Linked DNA regions of Homo sapiens: region 2 is linked to region 1. Evidence: fine-mapped expression QTL. A gene starts in region 1. The other region holds a variant in brackets. All regions are shown on one strand. Distances are from middle to middle. Region 1 holds the start of PARD3B (par-3 family cell polarity regulator beta). Region 2 overlaps PARD3B (par-3 family cell polarity regulator beta).

Region 1 (5,400 bases):
TAAATTGTTTCTATATATGCTGTGATGAGGCTGAATAACAAATTAAACCTGGCTATTTAATAAACATGAAATGTAAACACTAAACTCTTCATACTAACTTAGGGCTATAAAAGGTCACCCCATGGTGTACAGGATTGCACAATGCACTGTTCACATCCTTGTCTAGAGTCATCTCTTCCTTCATCTCACAATGGCATGGCCTCTGCTGCATCCCCTAGGTCCCGATTCCAACTTCCCAAGTGGAACTGGGAGAGCCGGAGTGTTCTTTATGGTTCACTTGGGGATTATCAAAGCCAGGACTTGGGGTGGGAGGTTCTAGATATTGGGAAGGAGCTAAAGCTGGGCTAAGAGGGAATTTGTGGCGAAGAGGAGGAGCTATTCATGACCCAAGCAGAAGAAAATGAGTCTGGAGCAACTGTAAAGCAAAAAGCCACGATGCAGGAAGGATGGCAACATGCAAAGTTATTTCATCAGTGGAAAATCTTTGCTCTGTACCATTCTATAGGTCCATGAAATACCGAATATTAAAAGTGAGGGCCACACATTAATGCACGGCATCAGTATCTATTTGTTTGTTTGATTCACTCATTGGTACTTCTCATGTAAGAAACAGCACAGCAGTTACGATGAAGACTCTGGAATCAGATGACCTGGGTTTTAAGCCAGCCTCTGCTACTTTCTAAGAATGAGATTTTAACTAAATCATTTAACTTCCTTTGGCCTCAGCTCCTCATCTCTAAAAAGAGGATAAAGTGTCTCCTTTGAAGAGAGCTGGCCTGAGAATGGAGACCACACTGAGGAACAGATAGAGCTAAGAGCTGGACAGAGCTAGCTGGCCCCTGAGGACATAGTTTGAGTTCCTGCTTTCAACCTTGCCTCAATGGAGTGCCCTCTGGATCTTCTGATTTTATGAGGTGATCAATTCTGTCTTTGGTTTATTTAAATGTAAATTAGTTTGTATTGGATTTACAACCAAATTACAATGGACTTGGTTTACGTGATCCTCTTGGTTTGCCACTGACTTTCTATACATAGAAGACAACCAATATATACTTACTGAATGTATGAATGAGCTAAAATTTATTTTTTTAAAAAACCTCTTGAAACCCATGAATTTAATCTCCTCTGCATTATCATACCATCCTAGGCAATTCACGTTCAATTTAAGTGTGTCCACATAGGAGCACATCCTTCTGTAGAGAAACACATGATGCAGCCCTGAGGGTCTTGCTGGATGAACTGGATGGCTAAGAAAACTGCAGGGAGAGACCAGAGATTGAGCTCAGAAGACCTGAGTTCTTTTCAACAGAACTAACACCATGGTCTGCTCAGTCTCTTGACCTCTCCGAGCACCATTCTTGATGCACAAGATGCGAAGAATAATATCTACCTACCGGGTAGTTGTTAAGCTCAAAGGAGCTCATTTACATGAGAGCTAAGAATGAAACTAACGTAATTTGTTGGTTTCCCCCACATATTCCCATTTCAATTGGTGATGGATACACACCTGCCAAATCATGAGCCTAAGGGTGTTAACTTTTTTTTTTCCTAATAAAATGCACAACGGTAGTCGCATTCCAGAAGGCTATGTGTCAACACACGCGATCATATCTGGGTCTTGGGTGTGACCTTTGGCCAAATACTCAGTGTCCTCGAGGGTCTGTAAAAGGAAAAGTTTCCACTGGCGCGTTCTCTCCAAGGTTCGCTTCAGCTCTGCTATCCCAGGGCTCCTGATGGCAGCGGCACGGGCTGTGCTTAAGGCGAGTTCCTAACAGGCCCTCGGGGCACTCCTGCATCTCCGCACCCGGCAGCCTCGCCCCTTGGGTGTTTTTGGTGGGCGTGACTAGAAGCACCTGCTCCTGGGCTCCTTTTGCATCTTGCTGCAGTCCCCTCCTGTGAAGGGCGCAGCTCTGCAGTCTCCTCGCTCTTCCCTCGGGTGTTCTTTCTGAGATCCGGTTTCAATCCTCGAGCGTGTAGCCCTCAGGTCCCCTTACAACTCCCCAGAGCTCCGTGTGCATGCGTGCGAGAGGGAGAGAGCCAGGGAGAGACCCAGGTGACGAGACGAGGCTCCCGGGCTCCAGTTACTGGCCCGCAGGGCCGGGGCACGTCGTCGCCCAGCGTGCGGCGGGGCCCGGGAGCGCCGCGGCCCCTTTAAGAGCCGGGCCCAGGCCGTCGCCGGGACCGCAGGAGCCCAGAGCGCGGGCGCCGCAGAGGAGTTGGGAGCCGGCGCAAAAGTTTCCTCCCAACTCTGGCCCCGTGCGCCGCCGCCGCCGCCGCCCACTCCAGCCCCCGGCTTGGGGCCGGCCCTGCCAACGCCGCCAGGGCCAGGGCCAGGGCCAGGACCAGCGACAGGGCAGGGCCGGCAGTTTCGCTTTGGTGGGCGCGGAGCAGCCGCCTGGGCCGGGCAGGAGTAGGAGCGGGAGGAGGAGGAGGAGGAGCCGGTGCCGCGGAGCTGCCGCGTCCCGGGCCGCCGGGCACCTGGGAGGTAACCCCTTTCCGCGGCCGCCCCTCCCCGATTCCCGCCACCTGCCGCCTGGCCAGGTGGAAGGGGCGCTGCCGCGAGCCTCCGGGCCTCAGGGTGTTCCGGGGAGCGGCGCCCCGGGTCTCTGGGCCCACCCGCCCCGGGCGTCCTCCGAGAGTGGGGGCTGCGCCCGCGGGGTCAGACACCTGTTCGGCCCGGCCCGGCGTGGTCGCCGGGGGCCAGGATGAAAGTGACCGTGTGCTTCGGCAGGACGGGCATCGTGGTGCCCTGCAAGGAGGGCCAGCTGCGCGTCGGCGAGCTCACCCAGCAGGCGCTGCAGCGGTACCTGAAGACCCGGGAGAAGGTGAGCGCGGCGCGGAGGAGTGGGGCGCGGCTGCAGCCAAGGCACCTGCCAGGTGCGACCCGGTGGCGACACTCAGGGGATGCAGAAAACCCAGGGGATTATGGGGCACTGCCTGTAGCTGCAGCTGTTGTCTATTGCTAATATCAGTGATGTGGGTGTCTTTGGGTGTTTGTGGGCCTTGAGCTCCGAGGGTCGTGAGTGGACCTGCAGCATTGGAATCTCTTGGGAGCTTCTTAGAACTGCCCAATATGGGCAGTTCTCCAAACCCACCGACTCAGGATCTGCTCTTTAACGAGATCCCCAGGTGATTGGAATGCCCACTGAAGTTTGAGAACCACTGGTTTAGAACTTGTTTGAGGGAACGTCTTAAAAGGTGCTGCTCACCTAAGTGTGATTTTTGACCCATTAAGGCCCGCCTCACTTAGGCTCCTTGGAGTTAGAAAGTTGATTGTGCAAGTGACACATACTCGGAAGTTACAACTGATGGGGCCTTTGGAGTTTCAGCCTTGTGAGCTGCCCTGTCTCAGTGACTTGGGCAGGAACACAGGTGGGAGCATGCTGTTTGCTTAGCCAACCTGTCTACATTTTGAGTGTTTTCAGTTTAATGTCACAGATTCTATGACCATTTACTATGTGTGTGGGCTGTTGTCAGGTCCTGAGTGACTATTAAAATGAGAAAGACGTTCCTAGCTCTGTAGCTGAAGTCAGGAACAAGTATAAATTAAGTGACAATTTTTTTTAAGTGTGCAATACATGTTGAGAAAATATCTGGCACTAGAACTTATGCCAAGTATTTGGGTAACATTGGGCCTCTGGGACTTCCTCAGTGAAACTTTTAAAGGAAGGCATTGAATAACCTTTTAATTTTTTGAATCTTCACATGGAACATTTTGTATGTCCCAAATGCTCCTCAAACAGGGCAAGTCACAAATTCTTGTTTTAGCGGCCAATGGTTCTCTTAATATTTGGTCTCGTGCCATGTGACTAAAATAGTGGGTTGGTCAATCTAGTGATGGAAAAACGTAAGTTTTAATTTCTTTTAACTTCTTATCGGTTATCCAAAGCATAAAAGTAATTGTTTCTTACAAGTGTATAGCTTAGGGGTTTAAGAAAATACTTGCACCTTCTTTGCCTCCATGAAGAATTATTATACAGAAAAAAAATTCAGCTCTGGACAGATACATGTGCATATTGCTTTGGATACTCAAGAACTGGAGGAGAGTACAATGAAAGGTCTATTAATATATTAAATATAACCCCTAAAGATGAACTCTTTACTGATGGAATTGAGGTGGAGGAGGGAAAAAATTAAAGTGGTTTATAAAGCTGTGTGAAAATCAACTGCAATGTTATGTGTGTGTGTGCACGTGCATATGTGTTTGCCATTGTTAAAATAGTGTTTGCTGTTTAAATCATGTAATTCAGTTAACTGATGTTTAAACAAGTAACCAATTGTCTATTAAATCATATTTCACTAACTTTTGAAAGTGAGCTAAGATTAATAGTAACAACATTACTCCAGACAGATTATTGAAATAGATCTCATTGAGGGATTGTCTTACCAAATTGAAGTTACTTTTTAACTATTAAATAATTTATGCCCTCAAATCTTGTATATTTAGAAGTTTAGTACAGGGGGCTATCCAAGTAAGAGATAAACTACAAGCTTGTAAATAACATGAAGAGAACTAACCAGCTGATATTTAATTCACTATAATTTGATCTTAAAAGGTGTTAAAATATTGACATTCTGGAATGGAAACGTAACTTATAATATCACAGAACAATGTAGTTGCATTGATCAGTTTACTATTATTACCAGACTTATATTTTTCTGTTTACATTTATATATTAGTGAATGTGACATTTAAAGGTCACCTGCAGCATATAAATCCTTCCTCTTATTTTCACTTTTAAAATTTCATTTTAAGAAGTAGTAGGTGATGATTTTTCCCCTCCCCAAGTATTCTTCTCCCATAGTTTTATTTTAAATAATATTGTAATCATAACAAGATTTAACGAATATTAAATCGTATTCATAATGGCACTAAAAGGTCAATAAATACCCTAACAAATTCCATGCTTTTATTCATTTTTTTTAAATGAGAAAAGGCCAGAAATGTCAAAATTCAATTTGAAAAACAATGTGTAGTAAATTCACTTTCTGTAAATCAGTGAATTTCTGCACTTCGTAATAATAATCACACTAACATGTAACATGTATTGTGCTTATTCTGTGCAGGCCCTGTTTTAGGAACTTCATGCTTATGACTTATTTCTCCCAACAACCTTAGGAGATAGGTACTATTATTATCCCCATTTTACAAATCAGGGGAAAAAGAGACACAGAGACATGACAAGTAAGTCGTAGATTTGGGTTTAGAAACCAGGAACTGTGTCTTTAGATGTTTGCTCTCAGCCATTAACTGCATAGCCTAGTACTATGTATGTTGTTATGAATTGGAATTTATCCATATTGTTTGTTTTTTAATGCTTGATTTAAAAAGACATTTCCATCTACTAACTGCTATATCACATCAACCTAAAAATAGCAATTTTGCTTCTGGAATAGTGA
Region 2 (5,400 bases), 840 kb after region 1:
AATCCAGAATGTACCCATGTTCCATGATTATGATGAAGTCTAATATTATTATATTTGGGGTTTTTTTTAAAAAAAAAGCAAACATAGACTCTGATTTTGACCAGTATATTGGCAAAGAGAAGATATGAGCTATTATTTTACATTGTTATTTTAAAATATAATTTCATAAATGACTTCTGTATTACCCACACTCTTTAGCAAAATTCACTAATTAGCAAAATTGGCTAATTCTCTGCTTACTATGTACCATCCTAGTAATTGGCAAACAAAAAAAGTGGCAGCATCTTATATCTCTGCATTAATACAAATTAGCAGGTATTACAGTGAGAGCTCTTATTACTTGAATACTTGTTCTTAAAAATATATGTGTGGGGCCAGGTGCAGTGGCTCACACTTATAATCCCAGCACTTTGTGAGGCCAAAGCGGGTGGATCACAAGTTCAGGAGACTGAGACCATCTTGGCTAATATGGTGAAACCCCGTGTCTACTAAAAATATAAAAATTATCCAGGCACAGTGGCACGCACCTGTAGTCCCAGCTACTCAGGAGGCAGAGGCAAGAGAATTGCTTGAACCCAGAAGATGGAGGTTGCAGTGAGCCGAGATCATGCCACTGCACTCCAGCCTGGGCGACAGAATGAGACTCTGCCTCAAAAAAAAAAAAAAATATGTATATATATGTTAAAAATATATATTATACATAATATATTATATATATTATATAAAGAATATATATTATATAAAGAATATATATTATATAATATGTAAAGAATATATATTATATAATATGTAAAGAATATATATTATATATTATGTAAAGAATATATATTATATATAATATATAAAGAATATATATTATATAATATATAAAGAATATATATTATATATTATATAAAGAATATATATTATATATAATATATAAAGAATATATAATATATAATATATAAAGAATATATATTATATATAATATATAAAGAATATATATTATATATAATATATAAAGAATATATATTATATATTATATAAAGAATACATATATATAATATATAAAGAATATATATTATATATAATATATAAAGAATATATATTATATATAATATATAAAGAATATATATTATATATAATATATAAAGAATATATATTATATATAATATATAAAGAATATATATTATATATAATATATAAAGAATATATATTATATATATTATATAAAGAATATTATATATTATATAAAGAATATATATTATATATAATATATAAAGAATAAACATATATACTATATATAAAGAATATACATTATATATACTATATATAAAGAATATACATTATATATACTATATATAAAGAATATATATAATATATAAAGAATATACATTATATATAATATATAAAGAATATATTATATATTATATAAAGAATACATTATAATATAAAGAATACATTATATATAATATAAAGAATACATTATAATATATAAAGAATATATATAATATATAAAGAATATATATAATATATAAAGAATATATATAATATATAATGTATATAATATCTAAAGAATATATTATATATAATATCTAAAGAATATATATAATATAAAGAATATATATGATATATTATATATAAAGAATATATATTATATATAAAGAATATATATTATATATATTATATATAAAGAATATATAATATATAAAGAATATATATTATATATATTATATATAAAGAATATATAATATATATAATATATATAAAGAATATATAATATATATAAAGAATATATATTATATATAATATATAAAGAATATATATTATATATAATATATATAAAAAGAATATATGTTATATATATAATATATATGTGGACATTTATTTGCCCATGGTATATAGTACACACAAAATTCACAATTTTTTGTCACAATGACAACTGCTGCTCATATTTGCATTTCTTCAATGCTTGCTAATCAAAATCAAGTGTTCCATAATAGATCTGCTAATTA[C/T]ATATGTCGTTAAGTAGTAACTTCCTCAAAAGGCTGTGTTCAAAGTAGATAATGCCAAGCTTTGGAAGGTCGGAAGGTACTGTATATTTATGGTTTGCATATCTACTAATTTGTCTCCTCTAGTTTTACCCATTTCTGCTCGTCATCTTTACCACTTGTTTGTACTGTTTTAGAGTAATCCTTCCAGCTAGCGTTAATGCCAGTCTTCCCATCTCCATTGCTTATGCTCTAGCTTCATGTCCGTTTCCTTTGAATCTAGTGATTTCCCAACCAATAAAAGCGAACGGAGAGTGGTATGTATTGGTAGACAATTAAATTAATAAACCTATATCTGAAAAGCTCAGAAACATGTAGACAATGTATATATTTCTGTTTGGGGGAGGACTGCAGTTAATGAGTAGGAAAGGGGAATTAGTACAAGGTCTAACAAGAAACTAGAGGGATGCATCAAGCAGAACAGAAATAACTATGCATTTCCTTCTTTAACCTTTCCTAATCATTTCTCTCCTTTTCCTTCTTGTTGTTTAAAACTTTTTCAGTTTTAGACTACCAGAAATTTGCAAAGAAGTAGCACAGTTTTCATATACTTTTTACCCAATAATTACCCCCAATGTTAAAATAGTGCGTAACGATGGTACAGAGGACCAAAACTAAGAAATTAACATGGTTACAAAACTATTAACTAACCTACAAAACTTATTTGAATTTCACCAGTTTTTCCATTAATGTCCTTTTTCTGTTTCAGTATCTAATCCAGGATACAACATTGCATTATTTGTTGTAACTCCTTGGTCCCCTGTGCTAGCTATGTGACAGTTCTTCCCTTTTTCCTTATCTTTCATGACCTTGTTACTTTGGAATGTAGTAGTGAGTTATTTTGTAAAATGTCACTCAATTTGGGTTTTTCTTACCATGATTAGATTGAGGTTATGCATTTTTGGCTTGAATACTGCTGAAGTGATATACTCTTCTTAGGAAGTACATGATGTTGATGTATCTTATAACTAGTGATGTTCATCTTGATCATTTCATTAAGCCATGTCCGCTGGGTTTCTTCACTATGAAGTTACGATTTTTCCCTTTGTAATTAATACATATCTTGGGGAAGATATTTTGAAACTATGCAAATATCCTGTTTCTTTTCATGTTTTCACCCACAACTTTTACCATCCATTAGTGGTTCTTGTCAGTAGCAATAGTTACCATGGTGTTTCAATGGTGATTTCCTGTTGCACTAATTCCTTCTACATTCATTAATTGGAATTCTTATCTAAGGAAGAACTATACTTTCTCCCACCACTAATGTCTCTATTCGCTTAGTTATGTCATTATGAGATTCATGGATATTTATTTTATTCTAAGGGTTATAATCTAGGCCTATCATTTATTTTGTTGCTCAGATTATTCAGTATTGGCCACTGGGAGCATTTTCAGGATAGCTCATGTTCCATTTTAACTTGTCCATACCTTTTGAAGAAGTTTCTTATTTTTTGGCACCGTGAAATGCTGTAAGTTTACCTCATAGGTTCCCCGCCACAGCCCAGGAATGAACCACTTCTCCGAGGAAGTCTGGCTCCTTTATTGTAGAAACCAAGATCTGAGCTCTAGGAATACTCATTGCTTGAGTATCATTGTTTCTAGACTCTCTCAGGAAACAGAACCTGGAAAGTTTACATAGATAGATAGATAGATAGATAGATAGATAGATAGATAGATAGATAGATAGATAGATCGATCTAAACTATGTCTACACATATCTATATTTACTTCCAAATCTATCTGTATGCACATTAAAAAACCATGAGTTTATACTGATACCTCCAATTCTAATCCAATACCACAGTAATCATTCTAGCCTCTTCCTCTTTCATTATTTGTAACTTCTTTCTCATGCAGTAAGAAAGCTGTCTCTGACTATCTGCAATATAATTATTTGTTCAACCCTCATATATTCATAAATTTTTTTTCAGAATTGCTAATCCATACCCTAGTACTAAGCAGAGTGCAGTACTTGTGTACATTTCTTTTTGCCTTTAGCTTTGTGGTATTTTCTCAAAATACGGTTTTCTAATGATACTTAGTTATTTTCTTTCTCAAGCCCTTCAGTGTGGTTATGTTAGTTATTTGTAATAACATTAGCTTCACTTGTTATAGTTTGTATATCTGTTTGGGTTCCCTCCATACCTTGGTTGATTGTTTTAATGTACATACGGTGAAATTCACTCTGTTGTATACAGTTCTATGGGTTTTACAAGTGCAAAGAGTCATGCATCCACAGTCATGATACAGAATAGTTCCATAACCCCAGATTTCCCCCTCACCCCTCAAATCACTGATCTGGTTTCCATCTCTGTGGTTTCATCTTCCTGGTATGTAATGAATGGAACCAGACAATATGTAGCCTTTTGGATCTGGCTTCTTTCATTAGCAAAATGTACTTGGTGTTCATAGGTTGCCGTGTGAGTAGTATACTGTTGCATGGGTGTTTACTTCCTTCTTCTAACCTAATTTGTGATTCTTGCCCATGCATCTAATGTTTATATTTATAAAATTGCCCACTGGCTTGATGCTTATTGGATTGCTCCTTTGGGACTCTGAAACTGACTTGAAACTATGTTTTTTATCTCCCCTTAGCACAGTTTACCTCACTTCATCTTATTTACTGTGGTTACTTGCCACAACCATCAGTCATTTTAACATTCCAAGGAGGGTTACAGCCAACCCTTAATTATTTTTGGTAAGTTTGACAGAGAGAGAATGGATAATTGAAATCTTCACATAATCTGCAAGCCTTATAATAGCTACTTCTTCTTCCCTCAACTACTTAAAGGTAGCAAAATTGACTCACTTTAAGTTTTATATCCTTTCCCTTCCTTTACTTATCCTCTGGTAGGAGCACTAATGAGTCCTCAGGTGACCATAAAAATGGAAAGACAGAGAAAAAGGGGAAGCACAGGCTGTGGGTAATCTACATAGGAGATAAAAAGCCTCTGAGTCACTGAGAATTGATGACACTCTAGTAAAATAGATCTGAGTAGGGATTTTGTGTCTTTGACTATTTTTGATTCCTATATAATGCTTGGTACTTGTTGATTCAATGATGGACTTATGGTCAGTCCTAAAAGTCCACCTAAAATAATATACTCCTACTCAGAAACTGCCAACCTCCTAGCTCTATTTTCCTTCCTAGCTGTGTCTATGTGCTCTCCACGGCAAAGCCTGAGGTTAATTTGTGGTATGGGGAGAATCTTAATTGCATTAACGCAGGCATTTGTAACTTAACATACATGGATAGGTATACATAGTCTTTTGGGAATCTGTGAACTCTTAGAAATTATAAATAGAAATGTATACACATTTCCTGGGAGAGAGAACCATAGTTTCCATCACAGTTCAAAAGTGTAAA

Evidence for each region.
Region 2: its variant is fine-mapped to the expression of PARD3B in blood mononuclear cells (TOPMed, PIP above 0.99).

What each region holds. Positions count from the first base shown.
Region 1 is chr2:204,543,295-204,548,694 of GRCh38, forward strand. It overlaps PARD3B (par-3 family cell polarity regulator beta), which reads left to right and starts at 2,181. Exons shown (of 23, transcript NM_001302769.2): 1 at 2,181-2,825. The coding sequence starts at 2,706. RefSeq lists a silencer at 2,168-2,217.
Region 2 is chr2:205,379,416-205,384,815 of GRCh38, forward strand. All of the region lies in intron 18 of PARD3B (par-3 family cell polarity regulator beta), which reads left to right. Among named protein-coding and RNA genes, the nearest start is that of NRP2, 300 kb to the right of the region's middle. The variant C/T (reference allele first, on the strand shown) is at 1,995.